Linked DNA regions of Homo sapiens. The protein of the gene in region 1 interacts with the protein of each later gene in a pairwise test. Each region holds a gene or a part of one and is shown in the gene's direction. Other genes may lie near its edges.

What was found.
Region 2: the proteins of DNAAF6 (region 1) and P2RX4 interact in binary tests that used the Homo sapiens proteins (3 or more experiments, as listed by UniProt).

The regions. Positions count from the first base shown.
Region 1 is NC_000023.11:107,237,415-107,244,697, forward strand, and holds the end of DNAAF6 (dynein axonemal assembly factor 6), read left to right. Parts: intron 1-1,507; coding exon 1,508-1,593; intron 1,594-5,754; coding exon 5,755-5,884; 3' UTR 5,885-6,833; downstream 6,834-7,283. UniProt on the Homo sapiens protein: Plays a role in cytoplasmic pre-assembly of axonemal dynein.
Region 2 is NC_000012.12:121,220,034-121,227,316, forward strand, and holds part of P2RX4 (P2X purinoceptor 4), read left to right. Parts: intron 1-1,879; coding exon 1,880-1,951; intron 1,952-2,060; coding exon 2,061-2,133; intron 2,134-2,696; exon of another isoform or gene 2,697-2,734; intron 2,735-2,913; coding exon 2,914-3,010; intron 3,011-7,283. UniProt on the Homo sapiens protein: ATP-gated nonselective transmembrane cation channel permeable to potassium, sodium and calcium. CTP, but not GTP or UTP, functions as a weak affinity agonist for P2RX4.

The DNA.
Region 1 (7,283 bases):
GCTATCCTATATATAGACATCAACTTCCATCAGAAAGAGAAAGCATGTAGAGAGTAAGAGATAGACTTTGTGTTGTGGTAAAAATACACATAGTATAAAATTTACCATTAGTGACATTTAGTATATTCACGATGTTGTGCAACCATCACCAGTATCTAATTCCAGAACACTTTCATCAGTGCTAAAGGAAACACCATACCCATTAAGCAGTTACTTCCCTCTTCTCCATTTCCGCAGCCCCTAGCAACCACCAATCTCTTTTCTGTCTGTATAGATTTGCCTATTGTGGGCCGGGCGCGTGGCTTACCCCTGTAATTCCAGCACGTTGGGAGGCTGAGGCGGGCAGATCACAAGGTCAGGAGATCGATACCATCCTGGCTAACACGGGGAAACCCCGTCTACTAAAAATACAAAAAATTAGCCGGGCGTGGTGGCACGCACCTATAGTCCCAGCTACTCTGGAGGCTGAGGCAGGAGAATTGCTTGAACCTGGGAGGCAGAGGTTGCAGTGAGCCGAGATTGCCCCACTGTACTCCAGCCTGGGCAACAGAGCGGGACTGCGTCTCCCACAAAAAAACAAAACAAAAACAAAAATTTGCCTATTGTGGACATTTCATATAAATAGAATCCTATAATATGTGACATTTTGTCCCTGGTTTCTTTCACTTAGCATAATGTTTTCAGGATTCATCCATATAACAGTACTTTACTCCTTTTTATGGCTGAATAATATTCCATTGTATGGATACAACACATTTTGTTTTTTCCATTCATCAGTTGATGCACATTTGGGTTGCTTACACCTTTTGACTGTTATGAATAGGGCTCCTATAAGCAAAAACATTATGTACATGTTTTTGCTTGAAAACCTGTTTTCAGTGCTCTTGGGTATATACCCAGGAGTGGAATTGCTGGGCCATGTGGTAATTGAGATGAAACATTTAAAGTGAAATCTTACTAAACCAATATGTTGTCCTTTTGGGGAGGTGGGAGTCATATTGTTATTTCTCTTTTGTTTTGATAACATAACACCTGAACTCCCACACCTCCCTAGAAAATGTGGTATGGAAATTTATGCCAGAAGACTATTAGATGGCATCACCAACTCATACCCAACATGAGAACTAAACTTTTTTTATACAAATTGCCAACTGATATAAAGGCAGTTGAAGGTCCCCAACTCTAACAGGTGTACTACTATGTACCTTCAGAAAATGAAGGTTACAGTCAAGTAACCAAAGTGTTTCTGTATAGCTTTGGAGCCAGAAACCTTAGTCAGATTACAGGAGGTTGCCCTTGGGCCACTCACTAAATTTCTCTGTTGTAGTTTCTCCATCTGTAAAATGGGGATAATAATCTCTGCTGCTCAAGATTGACATAAAGATAGGGCATAGCCTGGCACATAGTTGACAATAAATATTAGTCTCTTTTCCCCATATATTCTTATATTCTTCAAATTAATTGCTCTCCAAGATATCACTATTTTTCTTCTCATTTTCTCTTTCAGGCTAAAATTAAATTGCCAAATACAAACCCTTCTGATATTCAAATTGATATCCAGGAAACAATCCTTGACCTTCGTACTCCTCAGAAGTGAGTAAAACTTAGAACTGGAATAGTGTATTATAATATTAAAGAGTCTTCAGTCAATATTATTTTTTAAAATGTACAGTTATTTTGTATCACCCCTAAAGTCTGAAGAAAAGTGGAAAATTTTGTATTCAGATGTTTGATCTACATTAATATAAACATAAATATGTTTGGAAATACTTGGACTTTTTTCTACTTTGCATCCGTGCATTTGGAGTGGGTTAATGCTATTAAAACACAATTCTTGACACCCAGATGCAGTTTATCTATCAGAAAAAATAACTAGAAGTGAAAATGCCATTAAGTTGTAAGTCTTATATGTGGTTTTTGTACATTGATTACATAAGGGAAGCAATATCTTTATACTTTTGTCATTTTGTGGGGCTGTAAGGTTAAATTTGAGTGTTTTCATTTAAATCAACAAAAAGATCTTGCCATCAATTACTATCTAAATACCTCACTGCTTTGTGCACATCTTATCTGGATATAGAGCAGTGAGCACATACTGGTTCACTGCAATGGTCCTAACTCTGTAACTCATGAACATTTCAAACTGGATTTGGGAGGCAGGCAGTTGCTGGCACATTTTCTTCCTTCCATTATCAGTACCTATAATTCTCCTTTGTTGAGCTTAGGACTTCAAGAAAATGACAAGAAGATCCTTCATACAAAAGATTCCTATGTGTAAACAACCCAATATGCATATGTAGCTTAATCTTGGCTTCTATAGTAAATGCATTTAACCCAAAATGGTCTACAGATAAATATATATCAAATGTTTTCTTATTATTTACATCATTTCAAAAATGTATCCTCACAGAACAATCATCTCATGTTATAAAAATTATATTCACTATTTCTGCTGTTTACTTCAAGGAGTATTGTACCCTTTTGTTGCATTTTATACACGAATTTACTCTTCCACATAACCTTTACAAGGAAAATTGGTTAAATGAACAATCTTCCAAGATATTTGCAAGCTTGTTAAAAGCACACACATGTCTACACACCATGGGGTTAATTTCCGTTTCCCTAGCAGTTCTCACTGTCTGTGAGACTTTCATTTAGTGGATTCTGATGGATATCTGTAATGACGGCACAGCCATAGCAGCTACCTAAAGATTGATGGAGACAGCAGAAATACTGAATACAATTTTTATAACATGAGATGTTTGTTCTGTGAGGATACATTTTGGATTAAAAGTACTTTCCCACATAGAACATGGGCTATACACTAGGTCCTTTGGATCATAATGTACTTATATATTAAATGCGCAGTGCAGAGAGGTACCATCTCAAGAAAACCTGCTTAACTAAGATAGAAGACAGAAAATATAATTAAGGATTTTATCATGTTTCCTAAATACTTGAGAATCCTTTAGAGCCATGCTTTTCTCTGAAATTGCATTATCGGGAATGTGTCTTGTTTTCGAGTTTATTGATATTCACACCTACTTTCTTTAGTTTCTAACTTTGACATCATATAACGCTATGTTTATCCAATCTGAGAAAGATTTGAGAGGGCATTCTGTTCTTGTATCTATAAGGCAGAAACAAGCGAATTTATTTTAACTGAATTGACCAGTGGTTTCTGTCAAACAATAGTCAATTTCATTCGAATTACCAATAAAACCCAGGTATTTACCAAAATAAATAAAGCAGTTTACCAAATTCTTCACTTTTTTCAATTGGTTGTTTTGGCATGTAGATACCCAACATGGAGTAAATGGAGAGGAGGAAAGACGGAGAAAATTGGATAATTTACGGGGATCTCTTAAGTCTTCATATGAGATTTCATTATTTTTCTAAGTGAATTCTAAGAATTTCATAAATGAATACCTTGAATGTGATAATAATAACACATTCTAAAGACAAATGTAAGCTAATTTTTGGTTGAGTGCTGCTTTAGATTACTCACACATTTGCTGTGCTCCTTTAGTTTGGATTGGGAATTGACTGATTTTCAAAGACTGATAGCTAAAAAAGAAGTTTTCTAAATGAAATAGTTGAGTTGCAGCTCAGTAGCTATTTCTGCACTTTCTTTGAAAATAGTTATGTCTCCTTCAGTAAACCTTAAAAAGGTTTTTAACCCAGATATGTAAGTCAAATAATTTTGTTAATTATATAAGATAAAAATTTCATTATGCGAATATGCTGGGAACCAGGATGTCCTTTGCTTAAATCTCTTGTGAGCAACATCAACTTAAACTCTCTAATATAAGTATAAGCATGTAAGTCTCTAAACTTGAGTTCACTGTAGAGATTTTTTTTGTATTTACATTCATGTATTATTGTTTGCATTTAATTTCTAATGAAAATTAACACTGGATGAACCTTTGATCACTGCCTAGACTGTAACTTCTGAAAATGCAAATACATTGTCAATGTAAAAGTAGAGGTATTGGGTTTAAATGTTTGTTCATATCTTATAGTACTAATCTATGGTAATTATTCAAATGTTATTTTGTGGTGACCTGAATACTTGCTTCATTTATTTACTCACTCATTCATTTATTTATTCACTCAACATTTATAAAGTCTTCCACTAGACACTAAGGGAGCACCAAGATAAGATACATTAATGTCCTTCCATGAATTGTACATGGATAAGTATTTGGAGAATTTTTATTTTGTTTAAATATAAATCTCAGTACAGATAATAAGACAGTAAAACAGACGACGAAAATATTTCCCTTCTCCTAAGAGCCTAAATCAGTTGTACAGTTCTACTGTTCAACATTTTATTATGTGAAGCCATACTACTTAGAACTACACAGAAATGCAGGCGTAGATGGATCATTCCAATGGCCACTAACTGTCTCTTTTGAATTTATTTCTCTCTGGACAGAGAAGTGCACATTATCATTGGAACTCCTTCTTCAGCTGATTTATAGTTGTCTTTTAGTGCAACGAAGCTACCATACTAAGCTTTGCTTTCTTTTAAAAGTGAATATATTATCATTTATTGAATAAAGTATAAAGGAAATCTAAGTCTAGCACAACCTATATAGTAAACAGATTTAAAGGATGGACTCTACACGGTTTTTGCACTCACTTTTTTTTTCCTGAGATGCCAAATATTACAGTCTACATTAAAATGCATTGCCACTACGTTTGGCAACGTATTCAGGCGAAGTGTTTTTCCTACCCCACATGGAATGGAACAAGAGTCACAGAAAATTTATCCTTCAGGTTCCATAAATGTGTAATAAATACTTTTAATGAACCCAGTCTTCTGAACTCAGGTTTTTGCAAAGGAATAAAGAAGGAATTGATTTTCAAGGGTTTTGTTTTCAAATACATACTAGTTCTCAATTCAAGAACCCAATAAGTGCCCCTAAAAATACCATATTCCTTTACTTATTTGGATATTATACCTTCTAAAAGAGCATCCTGTCCACCTTTTATAGAGATACTCAGACCTTCTCTACTGAAAATGCGAGGTAACAAGTGTTTCATGCATTTAATTTTCTTCCAAAACCAGCATGTGCTGACCCCGTGCATAATTTAGATTCATGCCAATATGGCAGAATTATGGATGTCTCATCCCAGCAATGCATCTAAAGCATAAAACTATCCAGCAACTGAACTATAAACCACAAAATAAACCTAGCAATCTATCACAGGGAATTTTTGTCAATGTGTAAGTAGAAAGAATCAGAAGCAAGGAGAGAGAAGCACTTTCATTGATTTGGTATTGAAATCATTCCCAGCCTCAGTTTCAAAAACTACACCTGTGGTAGAGACTCTGCTTAAATCTATGTTAGCAGAAGTGTCATAGAGCCATTCCAATTTTCAAATTTGTATCCGTCGGCCACATTGCATCTATACATAAGTATGAGTGGCAACAGATCTGTCCAGCAAACTTAAAAGTTGCATAGTTCTATTTCTATGCCTGTAAACATAGCCTGAGACTATGTAAAATGAGGTCAATTCGGAGAAAAATAGGGGCGCCAAAACAACTGCTTGGATTTTTAAGTCCAGAAAAACTGGTATACTGTTTGTGTTATTTAGGCATATTTTTGATCCAATATTTACACTATCTAAATATTGGGGGGGGGTTGTTTTCTAACACTCTAGTGGCATATGTTGTTTGCAATTGTCTTATTGAAAGTGATACATCATTTTAGGAAGCTAAGGTTTTATTTTGTTGTTTTTTTTTAGGAAGCTGTTGATAACTCTTCCTGAGCTGGTGGAATGTACCAGTGCCAAAGCATTCTATATCCCAGAGACTGAAACTCTTGAAATCACTATGACTATGAAAAGAGAGTTAGATATTGCTAATTTCTTCTGAAACTGCATGAAAAAGATAAAAAGTAGTAAAATGGCATTGGTAACAATTAAAAAACTTTGAAAAAAATGATTGTTTTCTATATTCTCTTTATTATTCTGACATATTTTTGAAAGGGACAAAATTCAGTTCTAGTGATATTGTGACCATTTACAGTAATTTCTATTACTCTGTTAGGAAATATGTTTCCTTGGCCAGGTGCAATGGCTCATGCCTGTAATCCCAACACTTTGGGAGGCCGAAGCAGGCGGATCACTTGAGGTCAGGAGTTTGAGACCAGCCTGGTCAACATGGCGAAACCCTGTCTCTACTAAAAATACGAAAATTAGCCTGGCGTGGTGGCAGGTGCCTGTAATCCCAGCTACTCTGTCTCAAAAAACAAACAAAAAAAGGAAATATGTTTTCTTATGTAAATAAACTATTCTATTTTTATAGTGATAGCTGAGTAGAATCTTTACAGGTTAAAAAATTAGAATATTTCATGGTCAATTACATAATTGAAATATGATCATGAAATGGTTGGTCCACTTACTTCAGTAGTCTGAAAAACTTATGCTAATTATTTACATTTACACTGTGATACAATCAGTTGCATAGCAATTGGTCATTATTATTACCAGAGAATTTTATTTGGTTGCTTTTTCATTGATTTGAGCAAATGATTTACAGTGTTCTCTGTTTAGGCTCTCACTGTTGTTCTGGAATATACAGGTAATAAATAGTTTGATGTACCATACTATCAACATATTTACTTGAGTAAGGAACACTTTTGTGCGTACAGTATTATTTGGCTTCTTCAGTTGTGCTTTTAATGCTTGGATATAGTTAGGTTAAAAACATTTTTTATATGCACTAATAATTATTAGCATTGCCTTTTTGGGTACTGTATTTATATGTAGTCAATTGAAATCCTTGACTTTAAAATAAATTTAAAGTGTGGCACATTTACAAATCCTGTTTGCTCTCATTTCCTATCTTTCTTCTTAAATAGACATATCTCTTTTAGGAATTGTCTCAATGTCCCCTCCTTCTTCTATACTGTATTGCATATGTTTATTTTGGAATTATTTATGAATACATTATAAAGCTTGTGTGACTTGGCTTCATACATTATTTTAGAACTGTGGAGTTACCAAGGAGTAAATTTTGAAAAGATGAACAATGAAAAGATGTTCATCACTTCTATATGAACTATTAAGGGAATAAATAGCAGATATTTTCTAGAGTTAATTATATATATACAACTATGAAGCATCTAGTTTGTGACTAGATGAAATGATGAAATAGAATGAAAAGACTGAGATTTTGGAAAAAAAAATGGTTGTGTTAGAACACTAAGCTCTTACAGAGAATTTGACATTTAAGCTACCAACACGACTTTCTTCTATGGGGGCAAAAGTTG
Region 2 (7,283 bases), on another chromosome or scaffold:
ATTATTTGGCACCTTTATACATATAAGGAGGAAACAGAACCTTTTCAAAGAGAAATGTCACTTGCTGACCCTGACCGAGTCTTCTCTAGAATGTTTGATTTATAATTTCAGTTAGGAAAGAAAACCAGCCAGATTTGAGCCCCATGAGGCCTCATGTTTTTATTCCTCTGAGATAATCTGGTTGGCAGGGAATGTTTTTAGCACTTGTTGGCTCTTTCCCTCAGTAAGTCAAGTTTGATTGAGAAACCATTGTTTCAGTTTGCAGACCCCCCCCTTTTTTTAACTGCAGTCAAATTCACTTATAGAAACTAACCATTTTAAGTCGGGCACAGTGGCTCATGCTTGTAATCCCAGCACTTTGGGAGGCTGAGGCAGGTAGATCACTTGAGGCCAGGAGTTGGAGACCAGCCTAGCCAACATGGTGAAATCCTATCTCTACTAAAGATACAAAAATTAGCCAGGTGTGGTGATGTACACCTGTAGTCCCAGCTACTCAGGAGGGTGAGGCTGGAGAATCGCTTGAACCCAGGAGGCGGAGATTGCAGTAAGCCAAGATCGTGCCACTGCCCTGCAGCCTGGGCGACAGAGCAAGGCTCTGTCTCAAATAAATAAATAAATAAGAAAGAAATTAACCATTTTAAAATGAAAAATTCAGCACATTTAGTGCATTCACAGTGTTATGCAAGCATCACCTCTATCTAGTTCAAAACATTTCCATCACCCCAAAGGGAAGCCTCGTATGTTACACAACCACTCCCCATTCCCCACTTCTCTCACTCCCTGGCAACCCGTAAGTGCTTTGTCTCTATGGACTTGACTGTTCTGGAAATTTCACATCAATGTAATGGTATCCTGTGTGGCCTTTGTGTCTGGCTTCTTTCACTCAGCATCATGTTTTTGGGGTTCATCCATGTTGTAGCCTGTATCAGTGCTTTATTCCTTTATTTTATTTTTTGAGATGAAATCTCACTCTGTCACCCAGGCTGGAGTGCACTGGCGTGATCTCGGCTCACTGCAACCTCCACCTCCCAGGTTCCAGTGATTCTCCTGGCTCAGCCCCCTGAGTAGCTGGGATTACAGGTGCCCGCCACCACACCCGGCTCCTTTTGTGTGTGCGTGTGTCTGTGTGTGTTTGTGTGTGTGTGTGTGTGTGTGTGTGTGTGTTTTTAGTACAAAGTTTCACCATGTTGGCCAGGCTAATCTGGAATTCTTGACCTCAGGTGATCCTCCTGCCTCAGCCTCCCAAAGTGCTGGAATTACAGGTGTGAGCCACCATGCCTGGACCCTTCATTCCTTTTTATTCATGGCTGAATCACATTCCATCATGTGACTAGACTAGGACAGACATTTGGGCTGTTTCCACCATTTTTTTTTTTTTTTTGAGACAGAGTCTCGTGTCATCCAGGCTGGAGTGCAGTGGCGCGATGTCGGCTCGCTGCAACCTCCGACTCCCGGGTTCAAGCAATTCTCCTGCCTCAGCCTCCCAAGTAGCTGGGACTACAGGTGCCCGCCATCACACCCGGCTAATTTTTGTATTTTTAGTAGAGACGGGGGTTTCACTGTGTTGACCAGGCTGGTCTTGAACTCCTGACCTCGTGATCCGCCCGCCTCAGCCTCCCAAAGTGCTGGGATTACAGGCTTGAGCCACCGCGCCCGACCTGTTTCCACCTTTTGGCTCTTGTGAAAAGTGTTGCTCTGAATATTTATGTACAAGGACTTGTTTGAGTCACTGTTTTCCATTGGGTTATAAACTTTGATGGGAGAGAGCGGGAGAGCACGCGGTCAGTGTTTGAGTTGTCCTCTTCAGTCAGCGTCTGCCTTTCTTGGCTCTCCGTGAGTCCTCTGAGCGTGGCTTGCCCGTGCTGTCTCCCCTCTGCAGGAGGAAAACTCCCTCTTCGTCATGACCAACGTGATCCTCACCATGAACCAGACACAGGGCCTGTGCCCCGAGGTAGGAGGCCCCCGGGAAGAGCCCCAGGCCCCACACCCCTCTCCACGCCTGTCCACCTGTGTGTGGGGCCGGGCCACGTGGACTTTCTTTTCGCTCCTTCTTTTTCCAGATTCCAGATGCGACCACTGTGTGTAAATCAGATGCCAGCTGTACTGCCGGCTCTGCCGGCACCCACAGCAACGGTACGAGCTTGTGGCCTCCTGGGGAGGGCGGCCCCTGAGCAGATCGCCCCCACTGTGGAGCGTCTCTGATAGAGAAATCTTCCCAATTCCTTCACATGACCCTGGGTGAGCCAGGTGCCGAGGCTGGGGTCCTGGAGCCCCTCTACATTCACTGCTGTCATTGGAGCCCCACAAGCCATCCCAGCTCTTGCCCTACTGTTTTTTTTTTTGTTGTTGTTGTTGTTTTTTCTTGTTTTTTTTTTTGTTTTGTTTTTTTGTTTTTTTGAGCCAGAGTCTCGCTCTGTCACCCAAACTGGAGTGCAATGGCATGATCTCGGCTCACTGCAACCTCCACCTCCCAGTTTCAAACAATTCTCCTGCCTCAGCCTCCCGAGTAGCTGGGATTACAGGCATGCACCACCACGCCCAGCTAATTTTTGTACTTTTGGTAGAGATGGGTTTTACCATGTTGGCCAGGCTGGTCTCGAACTCCTGACCTCAGGTGATCCACCCGCCTCAGCCTCCCAAAGTGCTAGGATTACAGGCATGACCCACTGTGCCTGGCCTCTTGTCCCATTCTTTAGCTTGGCATCACCCTGGCTGAGATGTGGCTGGCACACAGGTAACTGTCTTCCTCCGATTCTAACTCCTGGACAGTGACACTGTCTAAATCCCAGATTTGCACAGCTCAAGACTGGCTGCATGGGAGGCTGGATGGGGCTCTCACTCCCTACTCCAAAAAGGTAGAAAATAGGAGACCCCTGTGGACATGGGACCCCCCTGCCACCCTTGTGCTTGTAGGAGTCTCAACAGGCAGGTGCGTAGCTTTCAACGGGTCTGTCAAGACGTGTGAGGTGGCGGCCTGGTGCCCGGTGGAGGATGACACACACGTGCCACAGTGAGTCCAGCCCTAGGGAAGGAAGTGCCTTTTTGTTTTGTTTTGTTTTAGACACAGTTTCACTCTGTATCCCAGGTTGGAGTGCAGTGGTGCGATCTTGGCTCACCACAACCTCCACCTCCCGTGTTCAAGTGATTTTCTGTGCCTCAGCCTCCCGAGTAGCTGAGATTATAGGCACCCACCACCACGCCCAACTAATTTTTTGTATTTTTAGTAGAGACGGGGTTTTGCCATGTTGGCCACGCTGGTCTCCAACTCCTGACCTCAAGTGATCCACCTGCCTTGGCCTCCCAAAGTGCTAGGATTACAGGCGGGAGCCACCACACCCAGCCAGAAGCCACCACACCCAGCCGGAAGCACCTTCAACTCTGCGTGTCAGCCTTGAACAGAGGTGGTCAAGGAGTTACACCTGTGTGTTGTGGCTTTTTGTGTGTTTCTGGTGTCTGTATGAAGTCAGGCTGCCCTAGGATGGCTGCTCTCAACCACAAGGCAGCGACCATCAGTGGCAAGATGGGCCACAAGTAGTCTGTCACTCACGAGAAGGGTGCAGGTGACTGACTTCCTTGTATGTTAGGACTCTGTCAGTTGCAAATAACTGACAGGAAACAGTTCTCAGTGCCTTAAGCACATGTGCACAAACACATACACACATACACATGCGTGCACAGCGGGGGGGCAGTGTATTGTCCGGCTGACCAAAAAGATCCAGCGTGGCCAGGAGAATCTCGTGCCAGGCTGAGGCAGAAGAATCTCTTGAACCTGGGAGGAGGAGGTTGCTGAGCTGAGATGGTGCCACTGCACTCCCTCCTGGGCGACAGAGGCCACTGCACTCCTGCCTGGGCGACAGAGTGAGAGACAAAGGACAACACCCTAGTCTCCCTTCCTGGCTCTGCATCCCGCCGTGCCAGCTTCACTCGCAGGACCCACAGCATAGCCCGGGAGGCAGCGCTGCACTTACAGCCCCCCAAGTCTGAGTCTCCCTTTCCAGCTGTCCCTGGAGATTCTAGACCTGTCCATCATCGTATCAATGGCCATATCTCTCAACCCATCTCTGTGGCTGGGGAATGGGTTTTGCTTATCAGCTTGGGCCTGGGTCACATGCCCACCTCTGCAGCTGGGGCTAGAGTCAGACCCACCCAAGTGACATAGGCAAGCATTGGGGAGATATGGCTTCCAAAGGACATTTGGGGTTCTGTTACCAGAAAAGCTGGGAGCAGATGCTGGGAAGAAAACAACGGATGTTTGCTACAGTGTATTTTAAACTAAACTAGACAGGTTCATCCTGGCGCGGTGGCTCATGCTGTAATCCTAACACTTTGGGAGGCTGAGGCAGTCGGATCATCTGAGGCCAGGAGTTCAAGACCAGCCTGGCCAACATGGAGAAACCCCGTCTCCACTAAAAATACAAAAATTAGGGTTAGGGTGGCGCTTGTCTGTAATCCCAGCTACTTGGGAGGCTGAGGTAGGAGAATTGCTTGAACCCGGGAAGTGGAGGTTGCAGTGAGCTGAGATCGCTCTTCTGCACTCTAGCTTGGGCGACAGAGAGAGACTCTGTCTCAAAAAATAAAAATTTAAAAAAATAAATAAATAAAAATTTAAAAATCAACTAAACTAGCCAGGTTCAAGGTTGCTCTAGAATAACATTCTTCGTGGTTGTAATTGGCTGTGCTTCATGGGGTGGAGTCCGGGCAGCGCTCTGAGAAGTGCGTGCAGCCTAGGGCCTTTCTCACCGAGAGCTCAGACCGAGGTCTCCATGAGCCCCGGGGAGCAGGAAGCCACTGAACCTCATCCTGGGTGTGTTGAGACAGAAGGAAAGGCTGAGAACTGCAGATTTAGAGATTGCTAAGGCAAAGGAAGGAGATAGAAAAAGAAAAGGAATCCTAGCATCTTAGAGCTGGAGAGGATCTCACAGAGCTGTGCTCTCCAACACAGGAGACTCTGGCCACGCGTGGCTATTGAAAATTGAAATATGGCTGGGTCCGAAAGGAGATGGGCTGTCCATAGGAAGTGCACTTATCATCAAATTGGATTTTTTTTTTTTTTTTTTGAGACGAAGTCTCGCTCTGTCGCCCAGGCTGGAGTACAGTGGCGTGATCTTGGCTCACCACAACCTCTGCCTCCCGGGTTCAAGTGATTCTCCTGCCTCAGCCTCCTGAGTAGCTGGGATTATAGGCACCCCCCACCACACCTTGCTAATTTTTGTATTTTTAGTAGAGATGCAGGTTTCACCATGTTGGCCAGGCTGGTCTCGAACTCCTGACCTCAGGTTATCCACCTGCCTCAGCCTCCCAAAGTGCTGGGATTATAGGTGTGAGCCACTGCACCCAGCCCGATTCTGTTTATTATTTATTTATTTTTTATTTATTTGTATTTATTTATTTATTTGAGATGGAGTCTCGCTCTGTCGCCCAGGCTGGAGTGCAGTGGCGCCATCTCTGTTCACTGCAAGCTCCGCCTCCTGCGCTCACGCCATTCTCCTGCCTCAGCCTCCCCAGTAGCTGGGACTACAGGCGCCCACCACCACACCCAGCTAATTTTTTTGTATTTTTAGTAGAGAGGGGGTTTCACTGTGTTAGCCAGGATGGTCTCGATCTCCTGACCTCGTGATCCACCTGCCTTGGCCTCCCAAAGTGCTGGGATTGCACGCGTGAGTCACCACGCCCGGCCCTGAATATTTATTATGAAAAAAAGAATGTATAATATCTCATTGATTTTTGTATGTTGGTTACATGTTGAAGTAATATTTTGGGTTACTGTATAAAATTTTACTTGTTTCTTTTACTTTGTAGTGTGGCTATTAGGAAACTTTAAGTTGGAGTGTGGCTTGTAGTTGTGTCTCATAAGATACTTTTTTTTTGACACAGGATCTTGCTCTGTCACCCAGTGCAGTGATAACGATCATGGCTCACTGCAGCTTCGAACTCCTGGACTCAAGTGATCTTCCCGCCTCATCCTCCTGTGTAGCTGGGACCACAGGGGCGCACCACCATGCCCAGCCAACTTATTTTTTGTAGAGACAGGGTCTCACCATGTTGCCCAGGCTGGTCTTGAACTCCTGGGCTCAAGCAACCCACCTGCCTTAGCCTCCCAAAGTGCTGGGATTACAGCGTGAGCCACCACACCTGGCCTCACAATATACTTTTATTGGACATCACTGTTGCAGATCTAATGCGGTGTAAAATGATTTTTAAGTGCACACTGATATAAGAAATAACATTGGCCAGGCACAGTGGCTCATGCCTATAATCCCAGCACTTTGGGAGGCAGAGACGGGTGGATCACTTGAGGCCAGGAGTTCAAAACCAGCCTGGCCAACATGGTGAAACCCCCTCTCTACTAAAAATATAAAAATTAGCCAGGCGTGGTGGTGCGCACCTGTAATCCCACTACTCAGGAGGCTGAGGCACGAGAATTGCTTGAACCCGGGAGATAGAAGTTGCAGTGAGCCAAGATCATGCCACTGCGCTCCAGCCCGGGTGACAGAATAAGACCCTGTCTCAAAAACAGAACAAAGACTAAAACGTTTTGGAACTAGACAGAGGTGATGATTGCACAACATTATGAATGTACTAAATGCCACAGAATTGTCCAGTTTAAAATGGTTAATTTTATGTTATGTGAATTTCATCTCAATTTCTCTAAAAAGGTGAGTTGATCTTAAAGTATTACATGTGAGGTACACAGGTGTGTGTGTGGGTGTTACGGTACAGGAAATGACAAAAACTTGAACACCCCTGTTGTAAGCCATCCCTCTTGAGGGAGTGGGGACTTTGAAGACCTGAGAGAAGTCCAGGCACAGTGGCCCATGCCTGTAATCCCAGCACTTTGGGAGACCGAGGTGGGTGGATCATCTGAGGTCAGGAGTTTGAGACCAGCCTGACCAACATGGTGAAACCCCATCTCTACTAAAAATATGAAAAAATTAGCCAGGCGTGGTGGTGCACGCCTGTAACCCCAGCTACTCGGGAGGCTGAGGCAGGAGAATCACTTGAACCCAGAGGTTGCAGTGAGCCGAGATCGCGGCATTGCACTCCAGCCTGAGCAACAGGAGCAAGACTCCATCTCAAAAAAAAAAAAAACCTGAGAGAAGCCCCTTGGTCCCAGCCTTTCTCTGACAGCAGTGGTGACAGGCTCAGCTCTCCTCCGAGTGCAGCCCTGTCACTGACCTTGCTCCTGTCTCAGGGCTGGGAAGACTGTTGATGTTGTCATTCCAAAGATCCCACCTGGATCAGGGGAACATCCCCCACAGAAGGGTTAGCCATACAGTGCCAGA